4 linked regions of the Homo sapiens genome follow. The protein of the gene in region 1 purifies or fractionates together with the protein of each later gene. This does not show direct contact. Each region holds a gene or a part of one and is shown on either strand. Other genes may lie near its edges. The genes, in order: DGKQ, EIF4H, EHD4 and KYAT1.

Evidence for each region.
Region 2: the proteins of DGKQ (region 1) and EIF4H fractionate together in Homo sapiens (co-fractionation; one large-scale study listed by BioGRID). This does not show direct contact.
Region 3: the proteins of DGKQ (region 1) and EHD4 fractionate together in Homo sapiens (co-fractionation; one large-scale study listed by BioGRID). This does not show direct contact.
Region 4: the proteins of DGKQ (region 1) and KYAT1 fractionate together in Homo sapiens (co-fractionation; one large-scale study listed by BioGRID). This does not show direct contact.

What each region holds. Positions count from the first base shown.
Region 1 is NC_000004.12:962,684-967,069, forward strand, and holds part of DGKQ (diacylglycerol kinase theta), read right to left. Parts: intron 4,372-4,386; coding exon 4,281-4,371; intron 4,120-4,280; coding exon 4,065-4,119; intron 3,845-4,064; coding exon 3,783-3,844; intron 3,619-3,782; coding exon of another isoform or gene 3,396-3,618; coding exon 3,245-3,395; intron 2,847-3,244; coding exon 2,808-2,846; intron 2,609-2,807; coding exon 2,493-2,608; intron 1,411-2,492; coding exon of another isoform or gene 1,393-1,410; exon of another isoform or gene 769-1,392; intron 608-768; coding exon 456-607; intron 238-455; coding exon 89-237; intron 1-88. UniProt on the Homo sapiens protein: Diacylglycerol kinase that converts diacylglycerol/DAG into phosphatidic acid/phosphatidate/PA and regulates the respective levels of these two bioactive lipids.
Region 2 is NC_000007.14:74,179,431-74,185,331, reverse strand, and holds part of EIF4H (eukaryotic translation initiation factor 4H), read right to left. Parts: intron 1-5,901. UniProt on the Homo sapiens protein: Stimulates the RNA helicase activity of EIF4A in the translation initiation complex. Binds weakly mRNA.
Region 3 is NC_000015.10:41,901,873-41,907,773, reverse strand, and holds part of EHD4 (EH domain-containing protein 4), read left to right. Parts: intron 1-5,901. UniProt on the Homo sapiens protein: ATP- and membrane-binding protein that probably controls membrane reorganization/tubulation upon ATP hydrolysis. Plays a role in early endosomal transport.
Region 4 is NC_000009.12:128,874,528-128,879,018, reverse strand, and holds part of KYAT1 (kynurenine--oxoglutarate transaminase 1), read left to right. Parts: intron 1-4,491. UniProt on the Homo sapiens protein: Catalyzes the irreversible transamination of the L-tryptophan metabolite L-kynurenine to form kynurenic acid (KA), an intermediate in the tryptophan catabolic pathway which is also a broad spectrum antagonist of the three ionotropic excitatory amino acid receptors among others.

The sequences.
Region 1 (4,386 bases):
CGAGGACAGCCAGCCCAGGCCTCGGCAAAAGCTGCACAGGAAGGGGTAGACCCTGAGGCCCCCTCCTCGGCTGCACGGCTGAGCCCACCTGTGCCCAGGGGCAGGATGGCCACAGAAGGCTCCGGGCAGGCCAGTCGGTACCGTGTCTCCTCCAGGGCGCCAAGCACCCAGCCCACAGTGCCATCGCCACCACACACCAGCACCCGGAAGCAGGGCACCTGGGAGAACAGGTGGAGCCTAGCGGGAGACAGGAAGTGTCCTCTACCAGCTGCGGGCGCAGCCCATCCCCCACCCAGGCTGCCTCTTCCAAGTGCCCGTCCTGGCCGTGTGGAGGACTTCAAGGTCCCAGCACGGGATCCCCGTGGAGCTCCTGCCGGCCGAGACAGCTGTGGCAGCCTCCTGGGGCCCTTCCCGCCCCTGCTGCTGCCCTGGACCAGGGGTCCTGCTGGACTCACCCGGGAAGAGGACCTCCGTTGGTCAGGTCGAAGACCTGATGAGGGTTCAGTAGCTTCCGGAAGCTGCAGAGCAGGTCTCGGCCCTTGAGGCCTCCACTCTTGGGGTTCACGAACACAAGGAGGGGACAGCTGTCTGGGGGCAGCTTCGCGTGCTGACAGACAGGGGGCTGGGTTAGGATGGGGACCCAAGGTGGGGTGTCCCCACTGCTGGGGTTGCCAGGCAGTGCCCAGCCCCCAACCCTGAGCCCACCTGGCTTGGACCAGCCCCCTCCCCAGGAAGGCGTGGCCAGCACCCTCACATCTGAGGCCTCACACATGAGCTGCGTGGTCACCCCATCTCGCTGCTGGCCAGCAGGGCGGCACTGAGGACAGCCGGCTGGCTGCCTGGCACTCCCAGCACAAAGGCCTCAGACCTGCCCACTGAGCTGCGTGTGAACAGACCACACCCGCCTGGGCCATGCAGCGCGAGTCCAGGCTGGAAATCCACGTGGGACTCTGCGTGGCACTCTGTGCCAGCGAGACCAAGGCCTGTCCCCTGGGGGGCCTCTGGTGCACACCTTTGGAGGATGGCGGCTCCCAGGCCACCGCCCACCTACACAGCAGCCGAGAAAAGCTCTTAACTCACAGGGTGGCACGCGGCGTCCCTCGACCACAGGACAGAGTCCATCTCCCCACACACAACCCCAAGAAACAGTACCCAGGGATCTAGACACAGCGGGCTCAGGGCTGGGATCCCTACGACAGGAGGCTAGGGACCCTACGACAGGAGGCTGGGGCCCCCACAGCGGGGAAGGCTGGGCAACAGGAGACACACAGGCTGGGTGCAGACACAGGGTGGGCAGCGGCACAGGGGCCGGCCGTGGCTGGGGGCAAGGACACACTCGGGGCTTCGTGACCCACTTGGCAGGCAGAGCCGCCTGCGGTCACCACTTACCACTCACCCCAGGGCAGGCAGCTGACGGGAGAGAGAAAGCGCGTGTCGGCCCCAAACCTGGCTCTGCCCACAGAGCGAGTGGAGCTGGGGTGGGGGCTGCATCCTCGGGACAGTGGGGATGGCCACCCTGTCCTGAGCCAGGCAAGGCCGGGTGTAGGGGCACAGGAGGGAGGCATAGCAGGGAGCCACAGGCATCTCCCGTCCCAGCCACAGACAACTCATTCTGCTCGAGTTCTGCTTCGCCTGGACTGGGGTCACGATCAAGGGTCAAGGTTCAGGGGTAGAACAGCCATGGACACCTGGGGGGTCCTCATGGGACCCTTTGGGGGCTAGATGGGCTGAGGACGAGAGGCCAATGTGAAGGCACGGTGTGCAGCGTGGAGTCCCAGGCTCCAGCCCCTCCATGGGCCAGAACCCCGTTCCCCCCGGCCCTGCCCTGTCTCCACGGACCAGACCCCCGTTCCCCCCGGCCCTGCCCTGTCTCCATGTTCCAGATCCCCCTTTCCCCCAGCCCTGCCCTGTTGCCAGGTGCCCCCTCTTCTGGGCACTGTGGGTCTGAAGGGCAGCGTTCAAAGTTTGGGAGCTGCACTGACTGGCCTGGGGAGCTCCAGGCAGAGAGCAGAGGCCCTAAGGCCTCCCGGGCAGGGGGAGTGAGGCTGAGGCTGTACCGGGAGGGCCATGCCTGGGATCCTGACAGCTGGTCACAAACACGCTCTGGCCCTTGGCGAGGCAGCCGCAGCGGGGCCCGGCACATCCAGGAGCTGCGTCCTGTGGGCCTCCCTACTGGGTGGAGGCCTCAGGTGCAGCGTGGAAGCTGGGCCTGACCCCACGGTGCCCCACGGAGCTGGTATCACCTACTGGGCAGCCTCGGATGAGCGCTGACCCTCTGACCTCAGGCCCCTTGCTGTAAAACGGGCAACAGAGTCCTTCCTGCTGTTGTGAGGCACAAACAAGGTGGCACCTACAAGCCCCCAGTGAATTCAAGGAAGTGATGCCAGATGAAAACAGCGAGTCTGGCTGTGGGGCCTGTGCACCTGCAGACCCCGACCTCCCTCTGGCCACCCCCTGGGGTGTGTGAAGAGCCGGCTTGACCGCACACTCACCAGCAGGTCGGGGAGCACCAGGGCAGTGAGCAGCCGGCCCCGCACAGCCATGTCCTTCAGCAGCATGTACAGCCGCTCGGCCTCCGCAAAGCAGGCAACGTCCAACACTACCGCGCCTGCGGCAGGAGCCCAGGACTCAGGGGGAGCCTGTCCCATGGCCCCCACGGTGCCAGGGCAGGAACCAAACCAGGACGTTTCCCCAGCCCAGGGCTGCCCAAGGGAAAGGTCAGGTGCTACGTGAGGGCCAGGGCTGTCCCACTTCACCCCAGGAACACCCCTGGGCCTCATGTGACCACGTCCCTCAGGGCAGCTCACCTTGGGAGGAGTAGATGTGACTCACGGACACCACGGTGGCTGCAAAGGCAGGCTGTGGTCAGGGCGGTGGGAGGCGAAGGACACACAGCACTGGGGCCAGGGACAGCCCCTCCGCCTGTCCAGGGGTGACATCTCACCCCAAAGGCAGCCTCCCCAGGAAGTACCCCTGCCCCACTCCAGGAGCAGGACTCCCAGCTCCCTGGAGGTACAGGACCCCCCAGAGGGAGAGGGAGAGGCAGAGGCTGAGCACCGCAGGGAACGGCCACAGAGGGCGAGAGGCTCCAGAGCCTCTTGGAGGAAGAGACGTGGGCTGGACCCGGAGCTCAGGCCTTGGTGGCTCAAGGAGAGGCAGGAGCCGGCTCAGCACTGCAGCCCCACTGCCTGCCGCTCGACCCTGCCCCGTGCCAGCAGCCCACGGCCAGCCACAGTGGTCACACCTTTGGTAGCCCCGGCCTCATGCAGCAGGCTGCTGTACTCCTCGGGAGACAGGCCGGGAGGCAGGCCGCCAACAAACAGGGAGACGTGCGGGGCTACATCCCTGCTCTCTGCCACGTAGAACCGCGTCTGGCTCACCTGCCGCACAGACATCTGCAGGGAGAGGGGCGGGGATGCTGGGCCGGGGAGAACGGCACCACCGCACCAGGCCCTCTGTCTCCTCACCCGCAAAACAGCAAAACAGGGCATCAGGAACACTCCCAGGAATTAAGTCAACAGGAAAACGAGGAAAGGGGCCACAGAGGCTTCCTTGCTGTGGACAACCCCTGTCCGTTCCCCTCGAGGACCTCGGGGAGATCTGCAGCTCGAGGCCTCCCTGCAGGGACCAAGTAGCTCATGACGAGGGCGCTGCCCTGTCAGCCAGGACAGCCGCTGCCTAGCCAAGGAGAACTCGGCGTCTGGGGCACACCCACCCTGTGGGGCAGAGGCTGTGGCTGAGGGCTGCTGGTTCCCTGGGGGCCGGCGTCCACACCCACTCACCTGCCGGATGTCCTGTAGCCGGTCCAGCAGGGGCTGTTCGTCCATCAGCATCGTCCGCTGGACTGCAGAGGTGAGGGCACAGGCCGTCAGCACCCGGCTCCTCGCCCACCTTGGAAGCAGCTGCCCGGAGCCCCCAGGGCCCGTGGGGATGCAGGGTGGAGCTGGTCAGGAGGGCAGAGCCCGGCCTTGATGTCCGGCACCACCCTGCAGGAAAGCCTGGGCAGCAGGTCCAAACCCAAAAGGTGCAGGGACCGCCACGCCCAGCACGGGCTGTCTACTCACCGTGCCTGCAGCCCATCGCCACCTCCACCAGCTGGAAGCTCTCGGGACTCTCGGCCTGTTGGGGTAGAGCTTGGCATCGGGTCTGGGCAGGCCCCCACCACCTCAGGACACCCGCGGGGACAGCCACGCCTGGGCTGGGATGGTGGCCTGGCCTCCTGGGGACAGCGACCCCCCACCGAGTCTGGCCGGCATGGGGAGCAGGCACAGGGTACGCACCTGGCGGCCGAGCAGCGGCAGGACCTCCAGCACCACAGAGCGGGCCGTGCTCTTCGGGGTCACTCGCACGGACACGTAGGCCACGCCCACCCTGTGGGGACACAGT
Region 2 (5,901 bases), on another chromosome or scaffold:
ATTTAGGACGGGATAATAAATATATGAGTTACAGTATAAAGCCGGGCCCAGTGGCTCATGCCTGTAATCCCAACAGTTTGGGAGGCTGAGGCGGGAGGATCACTTAAAGCCAGGAGTTCAAGACCAGCCTGGGCAACACAGTAAGACCCCATCTCTATAAAAAATACAAAAAATTAGCCGGGAGTGATGGTCCACACTTGTAGTCCCAAGCTACCTGGGAGGCTGAGGTGGGAGGATCACCTGAGCCCAGGAGGTTGTTGCTGCAGTGAACTGTGATGGCACCACTGCACTCCAGCCTGGGTGACAGAAGGAGACTGTCTCCAACTGAAGAAACAACAACAACAACAAAAAGGCGGGGCACAGTGGCTCATACCTGTAATCCCAGCACTTCGGGAGGTCAAGGTGGGTGGATCACTTGAGGCCAGAAGTTCAAGACCAGCCTGGCCAACATGGTAAAACTCCGTCTCTACTAAAAATACAAAAACTAGCCAGGTGTGGTAGCACACACTTGTAATCCCAGCTACTTCAGAGGCTGAGGTGGAGCTTGCAGTGAGCTGAGACTGTGTCACTGCGCTTCAGCCTGGGCTACAGAGCGAGACTCCATCTCAAAAAAACAAAAACAAAAAAACACAAAAAACAAACAAAAAAGCACAAAAAACAACAACAAAACCAAACAAACAAAAAACAAGATACAGTATAAACATGTGGAAAACCATAAAAATGGAGGGTCAATGTTAAAAACAGTTTAAATTCATTACTCAACATTAAACATCTAGTGATGCGTAATGATGTTAAAAGACTGTCTTGTATGTAAGCAGCTCACAGTTGTGTGGGACGTATAAAACACATGTATATATGCAGGTATGTTTGTGTGTATGAATGTGTAACATATACATAAAAACTAAAAAGGAGGGTGAGGATGAAGAGAGATGATAAACTCTCGGGTGTTTGATGTAGTTGCTAAGTAAGGAAAATGGAGGTGCGAAGGCTTGCTAATTGTGCTCGAACTTACAGAGTAGAGGAACTGTGGAACTGAGATCAGGCCAGACTTGACCCCTGATTGAGCACAGGAAGCCCAGGTGAATGCCAGTAAGATGACGGGGCACTGCTAAAAATGCACTAGGACAGGAAGGTGGCTCTGGCTTTGGAGAAGATAGAAAAATCTAGTTTGGGGCAAACCATTTTTGAAAAGTTGGCACGTTACCAAATGGCAGCACCTAACAGCTAACTGGTGATATAATTCTGGAGCAAAGATACACCAAAGCCCACCAAACTGTTCAACTCACTCGTGCCTCACAAAACCACCAGTGGCTTAATACTCTAGACTTTTCAATAATTACCAAAGTAGTCCTAAATATTCCCATACCCTACCTGATGTAGTCCCTTCTACAGGTCTTAAGCACTTTTTACCTTTTCATCCCATTCAATGAAATCACTAGGGGGCAGCAGGGCTGGGCCATGGAGGTAGACCTCATTCAAGCTAGCACTGGTAAAGTGTCCACTGTGTGACAGTCACTTGAGACACATCACATAGGATGTGAGTACCCCAGAGTACACATCACATAGGATGACATCACATCACATCACATAGGATGACACAGATCTGTTACCCACCGATTCATTTACAAAATCAAATGTCAGAAAACTCTGAGCTAAAATGTCTGCCACCTTTCACTAGATTCAAGTTTGGGGGACTACTACCTAAATAAATAAGCTGTGTTTCGTGAAATTCAGTACATTCCTACACAGATCAATAACAACACATGGGAGAACAGGTTCACTTGACACCTTAGCTAGCTTGATGTAGGACCTCTGCCAAATTACCTCTGTACCTATGTTTTCTTGTCTGTTATATTTCAATCTTGATTTTATAAGTTTAAAACTGACCATAAAAACATTTCCTAAGTACCAAGTGCTATATAATTCTGCCATGCTCCTGGGTAGACCCAACAGGCCTGAGGCTACACTGGGCTGGCAGGAGTGCGTGTAGAACAGGAACAGATCAGCAGAGCGTGCCAATTCAGGACACCTGAAGTCAAGGTCTGTGCTGCAAACTCCCTGCCACTACTGAGCAGTGTCCTTTCTACTGCCCATTAGGGACAGTCTATTGATTATGAAAGATTAAAGTAGTCAATTACAGCCTCAGTAATTTAGGAAACCCTACTTTCGGCTCCAAGTGTGACTAAAATCCTTGACAGGCAAATCACTTTTCCTTACTCAAATCAACCACGTATCTGCATGTCTATGAAGGGTGGAGAGAATGTAGAGAAGGCACAAACCTAAGACTCGGTTTCTGCCCTCAAGGAGCTGATAATTTGGAAAGGAGAAATCACGTCACAAGCAAAGGACTGCAGAAAATCTGGAAGATAGCAATGAGAACAGTTTCACCAGGGTGGAGCAGTTGGGAGCCAGGATATGCAGCACAGCAGAGAGCAACAGAAGTGGGACTCCACTTCCAGATGGCAGATGGGGCCAATACTGAACCCTTAGGGTGAGCCAGAAAAGATCTGTAGGTGTCAAAGGAGACTGAGAGAGGGTAACTATAAAAAGAAGCCAATGTACAGAGTAGATGTTATGAGGGTAGGGATGTATCCAGTAAGTAGATGCAACAGAAAGTTGAGTGCTCAAGGCTGGGCATGGGCATGTGGCTCCGGCCTGTAGTCCCAGCACTTTGGGACTGTGATTGTGCAACTGCACTCCAGCCTGGGCAACAGGGCAAGACTATGCCTCCAAATTATGAGACACATCTCATTTAAACCTCCCAACAGAGGAGTTTCTAGCTCTCATTTGGGGAAAGTAGGGCCCAGAAGGGTAAAGTAGTGTAAACCAAAGAAAATGACTGGCCGGACGCCATGGCTCACACCTGCAATCCCGGCACTTCGGGAGGCCAAGGTGGGGAGATCACTTGAGCTCAGGAGTTTGAGACCAGCGTGGGGAACACGGCAAAACCCCATATCTACAAACAGGTAACATTTGGGTTTTTGACAATCATCAAAAATGGTTAAGCTTTCAAAGGTCAAGCCTTTGATAAATACCATTTATACTACCTATTATAAACCATAGTAGTATAGAGAAGAGTGGTCACTTAAAGAGTAGGTAATGGGTATACAGGTCACTATATTATGCTTTGGTTCGTGTTCTAAATTTTCTACATTTTTCTGTAATGTTTTGCATATTCAAACAATCCAACTATACAAAGTCATCTTTGCAAAAACTGGGAAAAACTGAACACTGGGTACTGGAAAAACTGTTGGTTAAAGAAAAAAAAGAAGCCCTTATCTGTTAGAAACATACTCAAGTATGAAAAGTATGTAAGAGGCCGGGTGTGGTGGCTCACACCTATAATCCCAGCACTTTGGGAGGCTGAAGCGGATGAATCACAAGGTCAGGAGTTCAAGACCAACCCGGCCAACATGGTGAAACCCCATCTCTACTAACAGTACAAAAATCAGCTGGGCACAGTGGCAGGTGCCTGTAATCCCAGCTACTCGGGAGGCTGAGGGGTGGTGGCGGAGGCTGCAGTGAGCTGAGATCGCGCCACTGAGCTCTAGCCTGGGAGGCAGAGTGAGACTCCATCTCAAAAAAAAAGGCCGGGCTCGGTGGCTCACACCTGTAATCCCAGCACTTTGGGAGGCCGAGGCAGGCAGATTACCTGAGGTCGGGAGTTCGAGACCAGCCTGACCAACATGTAGAAACCCTCTGTTTCTGCTCTATCTCTGCTAAAAATACAAAATTTGCCAGGTGTGGTGGCACATGCCTGTAATCCCAGCTACTCGGGAGGCTGAGGCAGGAGAATCGCTTGAACCCAGGAGGCGGAGGTTGTGGTGAGCCGAGATAGTGCCACTGCATTCCAGCCTGGGCAACAAGAGTAAAACTCTGCCTCAGAAAACAAAACAAAACAAAAAACAAAAAAAACAAAGAAAGAATATATAAGATACATCTACTACGGTAGCCATAAAAATTGAAACAAAAATTGCTCTAAAGTATGTAATATTTACCAACACAAAGATGAGGATTAAAATTTAAAAAAATAAGAACTATTTTAGAAGGATAGGTGACTAGGATTAGCCTTAAATTATCCTAGCCCACACCTCCACCCAAAAGTAGGGAAGATAGATGTAACAGAAATAGCCAAAATGTTTATGAGGTTAAAACTGGGAAAGGAATGGAGTTGTTTAGTGGGTATAGAGTTTCTGTTTGGATTATGAAAAGGTTCTGGAACTAGATAGTGGCAATGGTTACACAACACTATGAAGGTACTCCATGCCACTAAATTGTACACTTAAAAATGGTTGAGGCTGGGCGTGGTGGCTCATGCTTGCAATCCCAGCACTTTAGGAGGTCAAGGCAGGAGTATCCCTTGAGGCTAGTTCAAGACCAGCTTAGGCAACAAAGGGAGACCCTGTCTCTATTAAAAAAACAATTATTTAGCTCAAGCAGCAGTTCTTTACATTTGTGCAGTCTCTGAAGAAGGCCAAGATGTAATCCTTTGGTCCTATTCTGGCCTGGAGGGCCACACCTTTCTTCCACTCAGCAGTCCCAGAGACTTAAGAGCTGCTGTATCACTGCTGCTGAGGCTTCTTTCGAAGGTCCTCACTGAAGCTGCTCAGCCCTTCCTCCTAAGATGAAGTTTCAGAGCCTGGCCATCCCCACTATCACCTTCTTCTTCATAGGCTCCAGTGTGCTGATGCCTTAAAATATGGTTCCCAGAATGGTTCACAATATTCCACATTTATAAAGCAAAGACCTATACTGATCTCACAACAGGTCTTTGTGTTAATACAAACGAAGGCAGGGGCATCAAACTACATTACTCATGCTTTCCCACCATGCACTTGAAGTATTTAAAATAGGAAGAAAAATCACAGCTTCAATTAGGAATATCCTTGGTAAAGCAGTAAAAATGAATCGTGACCCACTTTTTAGTACCCTATGTTATGAAACACGCAAAGCACTTCTGCTGCATACACAAGCATGATGGCTGCTGCAGGAAAAGCACTTGAGCTACAAGCTGAACTAGCTGTTCTTTCTATAGAACAAACTATGGTTAATTCAGACATGGGTACTAAGTTTTTTAAAAATGAAGTTAAGTCTGTTCCTTGAAGTAAAAGAACAGTATTTGGGTTTTTTGTTTTGAGACAGGGTCTTGCTCTGTTGCCCAGATTTGAGTGCTGTGGTGCAATCACTGCTCACTGCAGCCTCAATCTCCAGGACTCAAGTGATCCTCTAGCCTCAGCCTCCCAAGTAGGTGGGACTATAGGCATATACCACCACACCAGCTAATTTTATTTTTGAAAAGACCAGGTCTGGACATATTGTCCAGACTGGGCTAGAGTGATCCTCCTGCCATGGCCTCCCAAAGTGTTGGGATTACAGACATGAGCCACAGCACCTGGCCAAAATAACAGTATTTGTTGCCAATGGTAAAATTTAAGCTTTCAAGCAAAAAAGAGTTTCGGAAAACCTGTATCCATCAACATAAGCCTGACAGTCTTTCAATACTCAGAGACTTTTCTAACAGCTATGGTGAATGTGACTTTGATACTGTATAACAAAATGTACCAACATCTGGAACATCTGCATGGCTCTGCCTGGCTCAGTGAACAGGTCCTTTCCAAATCACCAACACCTTACAAATGTATGCACTGGTAAAGGATCCAGTCGGAGTACAAGATAAAGTGACTTTTTTTTTTTTTTTTTGATACAGAGTCTCACCCTGTCGCCCAGGCGGGAGTGCAGTGGCGCAATCTGGGCTCACTGCAAACTCCACCTCCCAGGTTCAAGTGATTCTATGGCTTCAGCCTCCCAAGTAGCTGGGACTACAGGGGCCCACCACCATGCCCAGCTAGTTTTTGTGTTTTTAGTAGAGATGGGGCTTTGCCATGTTAGCCAGGCTGGTCT
Region 3 (5,901 bases), on another chromosome or scaffold:
AGGCGGACAGATCACTTGAGCTTAGGAGTCAAGAGACCAGCCTGTGCAACGTAGTGAAACCCCGTCTCTGCAGAAAATCCAAAAAAATTGGCCAGGTGTGGTGGTGCATGTCTGTAGTTCCAGCTACCCGGGAGGCTGAGGTAGGAGGATTACTTGAGCCCTGGAGGTGAAGGTTGCAGTGAGCCAAGATCGCACCACTGCACTCCAGCCAGGACAACAGTGTAAGACCCCGTCTCAAAAAAATATATACACGCACACACAACAGAGAAATGTCTCTTTTCTTCCAGCAGTGAAATGGGTATTCCTGTGCTCACAAGCTGAATTGGGTTTTTCTGGTCACCAGGTGGTATTGGAGGGCTGTTGTGGCCTCCAGGAGCAGTCTCCCTGGGCAACTTCCCCATTCACACCCCTGGTTATGCCCTGTATCCCATGACCAAGGAGTAAGACAGCTGTTTCCTTGTACCCTTCAGATATTTCAGAAGGGAACTTGGTTTCTTGACCTAAATGAAAGTTATAAAGAAATACAGAGCCTGAGCTGTGGCCCAGTTGGGGCCTCTGTGCCTCGCTGGCTTCCTGAAGTTGCTACAGTGCCTTGCCACAGGGAGACGCTGCTCTTGAGCCCTGGGGCTCCACAGAGGCCTCCCTTGCCAGGCCTCTCCTGCTGGTCCCCTGTGAGCCCGATAATGTAGGGAGCAGGCTCTGGGACCAGAGCTACTCATGACAAAGCTAGCCTGGGCTGGCCAGGTCAGAAGACACCCAGGGTCCTCTGAGCTGGGGGAAGGCAACAAGGAAAGCATGATCTCAGGAGCAGCCATGGCCCACTGAGATGGAGGGTACAAGGAGGGCCAAGCCTTTGCTGAGAATCACCTGGACTCAGGTCTATGCCCAGTACCTTAGCACCACGGAAGGTGGGTGAGCAAGCAAGTGCAGGATCCAGCCAGCCACTCCAAGTGCTGACATAGGAGCAGGCTCTGTGCATGGTCTGCAGCCAGACCAGGTGTGTCACCCCAAGGGGAACGTGGCAGTGCCCAGGCAGGGATGCCCGCAACCCCAAAGCCCCAGAGGGGGTGCTACAGTGTGCTAATTAGCTCTTTTAGTTGTGCATCATGTTAGCAGCTCAGTCACCCTCTTGCCCCACTCTGGCCCATGGCTCCGGTCCAGCTCGACCCCACCACTGCTTCTGTTGAGTGGCACGGCTACCCTGCAATGGTGAGGGCAGAGGGCCAGTGTTACAGCCTTTCTGGGTACCTGCGTTTGGTGGGTCCCAAGCTTTTGTCCTGCATCCAAGAAGAATAAGGTCATGCTGACAATTGAAGAGTGATGAGGGTGGAGGATTTTACTGAGCAACAAAACAACTCTCAGTGAAGAGGGGATGGGAAGATTGGGTTGTCTCTCCTGAAGTCAGGTCATCTCCCCAGTGTGGCTGAGTCTGGGGTTTTTATAGGCACAGGATAGAGGAGTGCATGCTGATTGATTTGTGAGTATGCAAAAAAGGTTAAAACAAAGGCACCAGTCAAAGGTGGACATAACAGTGTAAAAACAATTAGGGAAGGGTAGGTATATGTAAAATAGGTGAAGGGTGAGGATCAATCAAAGAAAAGCAGCCAAATGGAAAGACAGGTTCTCAATCCAGTCCATGGATTTGACTTGTAGCTTGGCCTGCAGGCTTTAAACTGCCTTTGGCTTGAAGATAGGGTTTCACTGGAGACCCACCCCTATCTGCCTCAGCATTTTTCTGCCTCCTGCTGCTATCACTGTTCTAGGCCCCTGGAATAAATCAACACAAAAAAATGAACAAATGAGGCTGGACATAGTGGCTTACGCCTGTAATCCCAGCACTTTGGGAGTCTGAAATGGGAGGACTGCTTGAGTCCAGGGGTTGGAGAACAACCTGGGCAACATAGTGGGACCCGATATCCATTAAAATATTTTAAAATTAGCCAGGTGTGGTTGGCTCATGCCTGTGTTCCCAGCCAGTTGAGAGGGTGAGGTGGGAGGATGGCTTAAGCCCGGAGGTCGAGGCTGCTATGAGCCATGATCACGCCACTGCACTCCAGCCTGGGCGACAGAGGAGACCCTGTCAAAAAACAGAAAAAATGAACAAATGGGGGTAAAAATAATTGACAGCAACCCCACTGTAAGGACACATGTTTCTTGTTACAATATGAGCACTGTTGTGCTTCCATGTAATTGAATTATCTGATGTCTGATATTTAGTATCTCTCTCCCACGTAAGTCTGTGGCTCCATGAGGTCAGTGACCCATGCCCTGTTCACTGCCATATCCCCAGCATCTAGGACGTGGTGAGTGCTCAATTCACACAAGCCAAGTGAATTAGTAAGTTAGTGTAAGGCCATATCACAGCAGGCTCTCAGGCCCTGACGCAGCCTCGATTCCCACAGGGCTTATAGACCAGGGGTTCCCCGTGCCAACCCCTAGAAGCTGCAGGAAGAGGCCTCCTTGGGAAGTAGGCTGAGGCCCAGTCACATCACCCCATTCCTTCGGAGAATCCCCAAGGAACAAGGCAGCCTGGAGCCTGTCAGGAATGCTTAGTGTCACCTGATACTGCAAGCTAGCTTGCTGTCACCGGAAGCTTTGAGGGGCGCGTGTGTGGGTTAGGGCCTGTCCCATCCCTGAGGCTGTTAAAGTCTAACATCCTCTGTAACATAGGCCTTGACAGAGGGGGGACATACGCTTAGAAGTGACCACACTGTGATCTTTGCACATATCAGGGTCACGCAGAGAGCTCGCTGATGCCAGCTTTAGGTTGTTATTCTCCCTGTTCTCTCATGGAGCCAGCTGGTCAGAGTGACTCTTAGCTGTAGCAGTGAGAGGAGAGTGTATTCTGAAGGCCCTTCCCTGAGCTGGGACAGGCCCTGCAACCCACCTGTGTGGCTGCCTGTGCGTGCCTGGCACGCTCTGGGGAGGGACCGTGACTGACAGCACAGTGTTAATACTGCAGGACAAGATGAGCACCCGAAGGGCCACCGTTACTGCTGACTCTGCTCCTCTGACTGGAAGGAGAATTTGGACCCCTCAGCTCATGAGTTGGCAGCATTTCAACAGCAGAGGGCAGCAGAGTCAGCCCCATCTGCTCAGACCCTCTGGTGGATTTGAAAACTCTTCTGGTTAATGTTGGCAATTAATGGGCAAGGGACAGCCCCACCAGAGACGGGGCTGGGAACTGACCTTTGCCTCTTGAGAGGGAGCAATTCCAGGGTCCTGGCTTAGTGGATACAACTGTTGATGGGCAAATACCTTTAAGTTCCCCAGTGTGTATTCATCCCAATAAGAACTGTTTTGGACTCACCGTGGCAGAGGGCAGGGATGATGATGGTTTGGTGCTGATGTCAGGAGTGACATGATGATGGTTTAACTGGTGCCCCCGCAGTCCCCGGTCAAGCCTGGGGGGGACCACAGGGATGAGAATGGAGGGTTTATTTCTTGCCTGCCTCCCAGGACAGGAATAACTGCTGCCTCCTGTCCACCCCTGCAAATATGCGGCCACTCCCCCTGCCAGTTTTCCAGAGCTCTGCAGTCGGAATCCACGGCCCCTGCAGGCTGGTGGGAAGTTTGGGCAGGCATCACCCTCCTTTGTCTGCTGGGCCAGACACAGGGGCTCTGTGTGCGCTCTGAGCGCAGGCTCATTCTTAAGGAAATGGGGTAGGTGTTCACGCACCCGGGGAATCCAAACTCGTTGACCCAGCAGCACTGGGATTTTTGTGGGGGACGCCTGCTCCTCCACCTGCTTAGCGTTCTCTTTTCCATCTCCTTGGCCCATTGAGATGTTGGTGGCAGGAGCCCGAAGTGCAGGCCGCATTGTTTGGTGCTGATGTCAGGAGTGACATGCTAGTGACTGCGTTTGAGAGACCCGGCCTGCAGTACCCGCTGCTCTGAGCTGAGCAGGGGCCACACGCTGGGTTTGCATGGTTTGATGGCTGCTGACTTTACTTCCTGAGAATATGTCAGAGTCCCTTCCCTAGAGAAATGTCAGCCCGTTTAGCTGATATTTCTCAGCTCTGTCCCCCCACCAACTACCACCCAGGAATCCCCTTCCAAATGTCAGCCCAGAATTCCTGCCCTGCCACCCTAGAGACCATGATTTTGATTCTCTATTGGAAACAACCTGTGTGTCCAGCTATAGGGGACAGGGTTAATTAAGAATGGCCCAGCTCTACAGTCTAAGTTCAATATTCTGTAACTGTTAAGAGAAAGGTTATGTAAAAATTAATACCACAGAAATATATGACATATTATTTGTTAAGAGTGTGGTATTGTTTCAGTGTGTGTGTGTGTGTGTGTGTGTGTGTGTGTGTGTGTATGTATGTTAATGGCTAGAAATGCATGCCCAGATATGCTAGCAGAGGTTTTTGCCAGATGATGAGATTATAAATTATTTTAAATTTTTAGTTTTGCTTACCAGTTTTTTCTGTTTTTTTTTTTTACAAGAAAGCATGATATTTATGATAACACCAAGTTTTTTTTTTTTTTTCCTAGCAGCCTGTCACATTGCTTCTGTCCAAAACAGCGAGGTCTGACTTTTCCTTGCAAATCTCCCTGCCTCATCTCCAGAAAATTGCACACCTGCATGGCCTCTCTTTGGCCCCCTCTAGAACTGTACATACAGAAATACTTCACATATAAAACCTGCCATACCTGGAACATTTCTGCATTTATTTAATAAAACTACTGTTGAAGACACTTTTCATCAGATCTTTGAAGCCTGTCATGTAAAGCTCTAGGTAACTCTCGCAGTTCAGAGCCACAGAAAGTTTGTCTCTTGCAATAAACAAGTGTTTTCTCTCCTTAGACAGTGAGGGTCCCCAGGGGTCCCCCTGGGCAACTGAGCTCTTCTCCTTATACAGGCGGTAGTTTTCCTTAACCTTAGCCATCTGATGTGATTATTCCCTTCCTCTCCCTAACATATATATATACATATGTATATATATACATACATATATATACACATACATATATATACACATACATATATATACACACATACATATATGTATACACATACATATGTATATATATATATATGGGTCTAATGACCAGGCTGGTCTTGAACTCCTGGGCTCAAGCAGTCTTCCCACCTTGACCTCCCAAAGTGCTGGGATTACAGGTGTGAGCCACTGAGCCTGGCCCCTCTCTCCCTTTTAATGACTTGGCTTTTTTCTTTCTAATGACTTTATAGATTTCATGTTATCCTTTTCACTGTGTTATGTCAAGTCCTTTTTTAAACAATTGGAGTATCCTTCCTCCATTACAACATAAGCTCATTTAAAGCAGGAATTATGGCTTTTCATATTTATTCTGTATCCCCAAGCCCCAGAACAGGGGCTGGTGCAGAGTAAATGACAAATAAAAGTTGGTCGGGTAGGTGGATGGATGGATGAATTGTTGGCTGAATGGATGGATGGAGGGTTGGTTGAATGGATGGATGGTTAGTTGGAGGATTAGTTGGACAGGTGGGTTGTTGGATGGATGGATGGATGGATGGATGGATGGATGGATGGATGGATGGATGGAGTAACCAAGGAGAACCAAGGTAGGAAGGTCAGTTTCTACGGTGCCATCCACAGAGCCTCTGTGGCATCCTGTAGTCTGCCCCAGCCTGGTTGGGCAGTCACAGTGTTTCCCAGGCCCCCTCTAGAGCCTGTGCTTCTGCTGCTCTGTCTGCTGACAGGCTGCCTCACTCAACAGGTAGAGCTAAGATATGTCCTGACCTGGCCAGTGATACTCAGGCTTACCAGCTACGTTTATTCCCTCGTGCTCCCCAGCCCTACTCCCTGCTCTTACAAGTTCCAGCTTTTGCTTATTTGTCCATATTTTAGAAATGACAGTGGATTCATGATGATTATGTTGTATATGCAAGGTCTCCGTGGCCCTGCCTCGATA
Region 4 (4,491 bases), on another chromosome or scaffold:
ATTTTTAAAATGCTCATCCTATGCCCTCATTCCCCAGCTTGCAGCTGGGGGCCTCCTGGTGCTTTTCTGGGACTTCGAGTAAGTCATTTCCCCTCTCTAAGCCTCAGTTTCCCCACCTGTAAAGCTGATGCCACCTCCTCCAAGGCTCCCGCGAGGCTATCTGCCTATCTGTTGTGTGTTCCTTTAATGTATGGGAGTGAGATTGTGGTTTTTGAATCTGGGTCCTGTGCCAGGAGGAATAAGTGGTGAGATACCTACTGTTTGTGTCACTCAGGTCTTCCACCAACCCCTCCAGCCTGTAAACCTGCCGTCTGGACTCCAGAAGTCATTTCTCTCTCCTCTGCCAATTCCTAAGCCCAGGGGGACTGTGTCTGAGTGACGCAATTGTTAGATCTCCTCAGACAGGCTGTTCTCTCCAGGAAAACATTGGCTCAACAAATTGTCACCAAACATTTGTCTTCAGGGAATTCTGTTTTTTTTCTATCAAAAAAAATTTGGATTCATTATATAATAAGAGATTTTTCATTTTGCTTGGTTACTAATTTTATGGAAAGCCTGGTAGGTTTAAATGTTAATAGCTTGTTGACTGGGTGTGGTGGTTCATGCCTATAATCCCAGTAATTTGGAAGGCTGAGGTGGGACTATCGCTTGAGCTCAGGAGTTCGAGACCAACCTGGGCAACGTGGTAAAACCCCATCTCTATCAAAAATACAAAAATTAGCTGGGTGTGGTGGCACGTGCCTGTGGTCCCAGCTACTCTGGAGGCTGAGGTACAAGAATCGCTTGAAACTGGGAGGCAGAGGTTGCAGTGAGCCGAGATTGTGCCACTGCACTCCAGCCTGGGCGATAGAGCAAGACTGTCTCAAAAAAAAAAAAAAGTTAATAGCTTGTTGTCATTGACAAGTGGCTGTGAGCCAGGACCCACAGTATATTCTCTGTGGATTCTTGTCACCTTCATTGTACAGATGAGGAAGCTGAGCCCCCAAGAGGCTGCGGCCTGGCATGACCAAGGTCCCATAGCTAGTTTATGGTGGAGCTGGGACTATTTGATCCAAGTCCAAGGTTTGGTCTTCTGTGGTTATTCATGCACTAGACTGGTCTTCCTGGGCATGGTATCCCCAGTTCTGTACCCTTTCTCTAGAGGTGCCACGATGTGTGTTGTCTCAGTAACTGGGAGTCTCCTGGCATTTTAAGCCCAGGGATGCTAAACATCCTTCAAGGCTCCAGATAGCTCTCCCCAGTGAAGAACTGACTCATCTCAAATTCTAAGTGTGCCCCTATTGAGAAGCTCCAAAACCGAATGTCATAATTGACTTGAGTGATGTGACGTGGGGCCACCCTGGGAAGGCATGGTCACCTCGCCTGCCCTTGTAAGCAGCCATGCAAGGTGAAGTTGGACAAGACATGGCTCCTGTCCCCAAGGGGCTGGTGGTCTCCTGTCAGCCCTAGCACCCGCCTGAGAGGAGATTTCACGGGACAGAATTTGGACTTTGGAAATAGGCAAACCAGGGTTTGAATCACAGCTGGAGCTCTCTAGGCTGAGTGAGTTTTCCTTGTTCTCCTTTTGAGCAAAATAGAGTAAATAATACCATCCTAATCAGCTGTGATGAGGATTAGAGAATTTAGCATGGGGTTGGGGGAGAGGGTCAGGCACAGGTAGGTGCTTTCTGAGTTCAGCAAAGGGCCTGGGTGGACACAGAAGCTTCAGAGAGGAGGTACAGGTGGGGCTAGGCCCTGCTAGGGATTTTGGATTGGAGGGTATGCCAGGCAGGGGAAACAGCTTGAGTGAAGATGGGCAACATTTATTCAAAAGCAAAGGGTGGCTGGGCACAGTGGTTCACACCTGTAATTCCAGCAATTTGGGAGGTCAAGGCAGGCAGATCACCAGAGGCCAGAAGTTCAAGACCAGCCTGGCCAACATGGTGAAACCCCATCTCTACAAAAATACAAAAATTAGCCGAGCATGATGGTGGGTGCCTGTAATCCCAGCTACTCGGGAGGCTGAGGTGGGAGAATCACTTGAACCCGGGAGGCAGAGGTTGCAGTGAGCCGAGATCGTGCCATTACACTCCAGCCTGGGTGAAAGAGTGAGACTCCATCTCAAAAAAATAAAAATAAAAATAAATTAGCTGGGCGTGGTGGCGTGCACCTGTAATCCCGGCTACTTGGGAGGCTGAGGCAGGAGAATCACTTGAACCCGGCAGGTGGGGGTTGCAGTGAGCCAAGATTGTGCCACTGCACTCCAGCCTGGGTGACAGAGTGAAGAGAGAGGCTCTATCTCAAGAAAAAAAAAAAAAAAAGGCCGGGTGCCGTGGCTCATGCCTGTAATCTCAGCACTTTGGGAGGCCGAGGCAGGCGGATCACGAGGTCAGGAGATTGAGACCATCCTGGCTAACATGGTGAAACCCTGTCTCTACTAAAAATACAAAAAAAATTAGCAGGGCGTGGTGGCGGGCGCCTGTAGTCCCAGCTACTCGGGAGGCTGAGGCAGGAGAGTGGCGTGAACCCGGGAGGTGGAGCTTCCAGTTAGCTGAGATCACGCCACTGCACTCCAGCCTGGGCGACAGAGCCAGACTCTGTCTCAAAAACAGAAAAAAAAAAAAAAAAAAGAACAAAGGATGACTGGGTGTGGTGTCTCATGCCTATAATCCAAGCTGTAATCCCAGGACTTTAGGAGGCCAAGACCAGAGGATCACTTGAGCCCAGGAGTTCAAGACCAGCCTGGGTAACATAGGGAGACCCTGTCTCTATTTTTTTTTTTTTTTAAAAGCAAAGAATTTGAGCTGGGGGTTGGGGCATGCACTTATAGTCCCAGATACTCAGGCGGCTGAGGCAGGAGGATCACTTGAGCTCAGGAGTTCAAGGCTCCTAGGTGACAAAGCGAGACCCTATCTCTAAAATAAAAAAAGAGTAAAGGGAGGGAAGGTGGAGGCTGCCAAGCCTGGATTCCAGCCGGCTCCAAACGCCAGGCTGAGGAGGCTTTGGACTTTGTCCAGTGTCACCACAGGCTTCTGGGCAGAGCTGGTCCAATGGGGGTTGGGGGACAGTGGCATAGCTGACATCAGCCCCTGGGTTATTGACATCAGCCCCTGGAATGCATCAGTGATGCATTCCACGGGCCCAGGGGTCATCCACTGCCTTCGGGTCAAGCAAATGGCCAGTAGCTGCCCAGGCTGATAGAGGTGTGTGTTGGAGGGGGGCACAGGCCACTGGCCCTCGGCCCCTGGCCTGGCAGCAGGGAGGCCTCAGATCTTAGATGCCTGAGAGCTACCCCAGAAGGGTCCTCGGCACAGCTATGGTCCCCATGCCTAGTGGTGCTGGGCCTCCTCGGTGCTGCCAGATCACCTGAGCTGCCTCCATTGCAGCAGTTATCCCACACATTTTTTTTTTTTTTTGAAGCGGAGTCTTGCTCTGTCACCTGGACAGCTGTCAGGCTGGAGTGCAGTGGCTCAATCTTGGCTCACTTCAACCTCTGCCTCTCAGGTTCAAGTGATTCTCCTGCCTCAGCCTCCCGAGTAGCTGGGACTACAGGTGCCCACCACCACACCCGGCTAATTTTTGTATTTTTGTAGAGACGCGGTTTCACCATGTTGGCCAGGCTGGTCTCGAACTCCTGACCTCAAGTGATCTGTCTGCCTCGGCCTCCCAAAGTGCTGGGATTACAGGCGTGAGCCACCACGCCAGTGAGCCAAGGTCACACAGCTGCACTCCGGCCTGGGCGACACAGCAGGACTCCATCTCAAAAACAAAAACCAAAAAAAAAAAAAAAACAAAAAAAAACAAATTGAACATAAATGGAATAATGGAAGAAATAGCTAGCTGTGGGGATGGCAACTCTGCAGCTGTTCACAGTTTGGGAAACCTGAGATCTGCATCCAGAGAAACTTCTTGAAGGCAAACTTATCAACATAAATGAGGAAAGTGGTTCTAAAGAAAAAGATAATGACCCAGAGGAAATAATACCAGCAAAACTTCACATTAAAGGAACTCCCTGGGCTGAGCGCAGTGGCTCACGCCTGTAATCCCAGCACTTTGGGAGGCCGAGGTGGGCAGATCACTTGAGGTCAGGAGTTCGAGACCAGCCTGGCCAACATGGTGAAACCCCATCCCTACTAAAAATACAAAAATAAGTCGGGCATGGTGGTGCGTGCCTGTAATCCCAGCTACTCAGGAGGCTGAGGCAGGAGAATCGTTTGAACCTGGGAGGCAGAGATTGGAGTGAGCCGAGATCACGCCACTGCACTCCAGCCTGAGTGACAGAGCGAGACTCCGTCTCAAAAAAAAAAAAAAAAAAAAGGCAGGATTATCTCACCACAAAATGTACAGAACAGGAACTCCCAGAGATATTTCACAACATTGAAAACAAAGGATGACTAAGGATGACTCGTATTCATCAAGACATAGAAGATGTCAGGTGCAGTGGCTTACACCTGTAATCCCAGCACTTTGGGAGGCTAAGGCAGGATGATTGCTTGATGCCAGGAGTTCAAC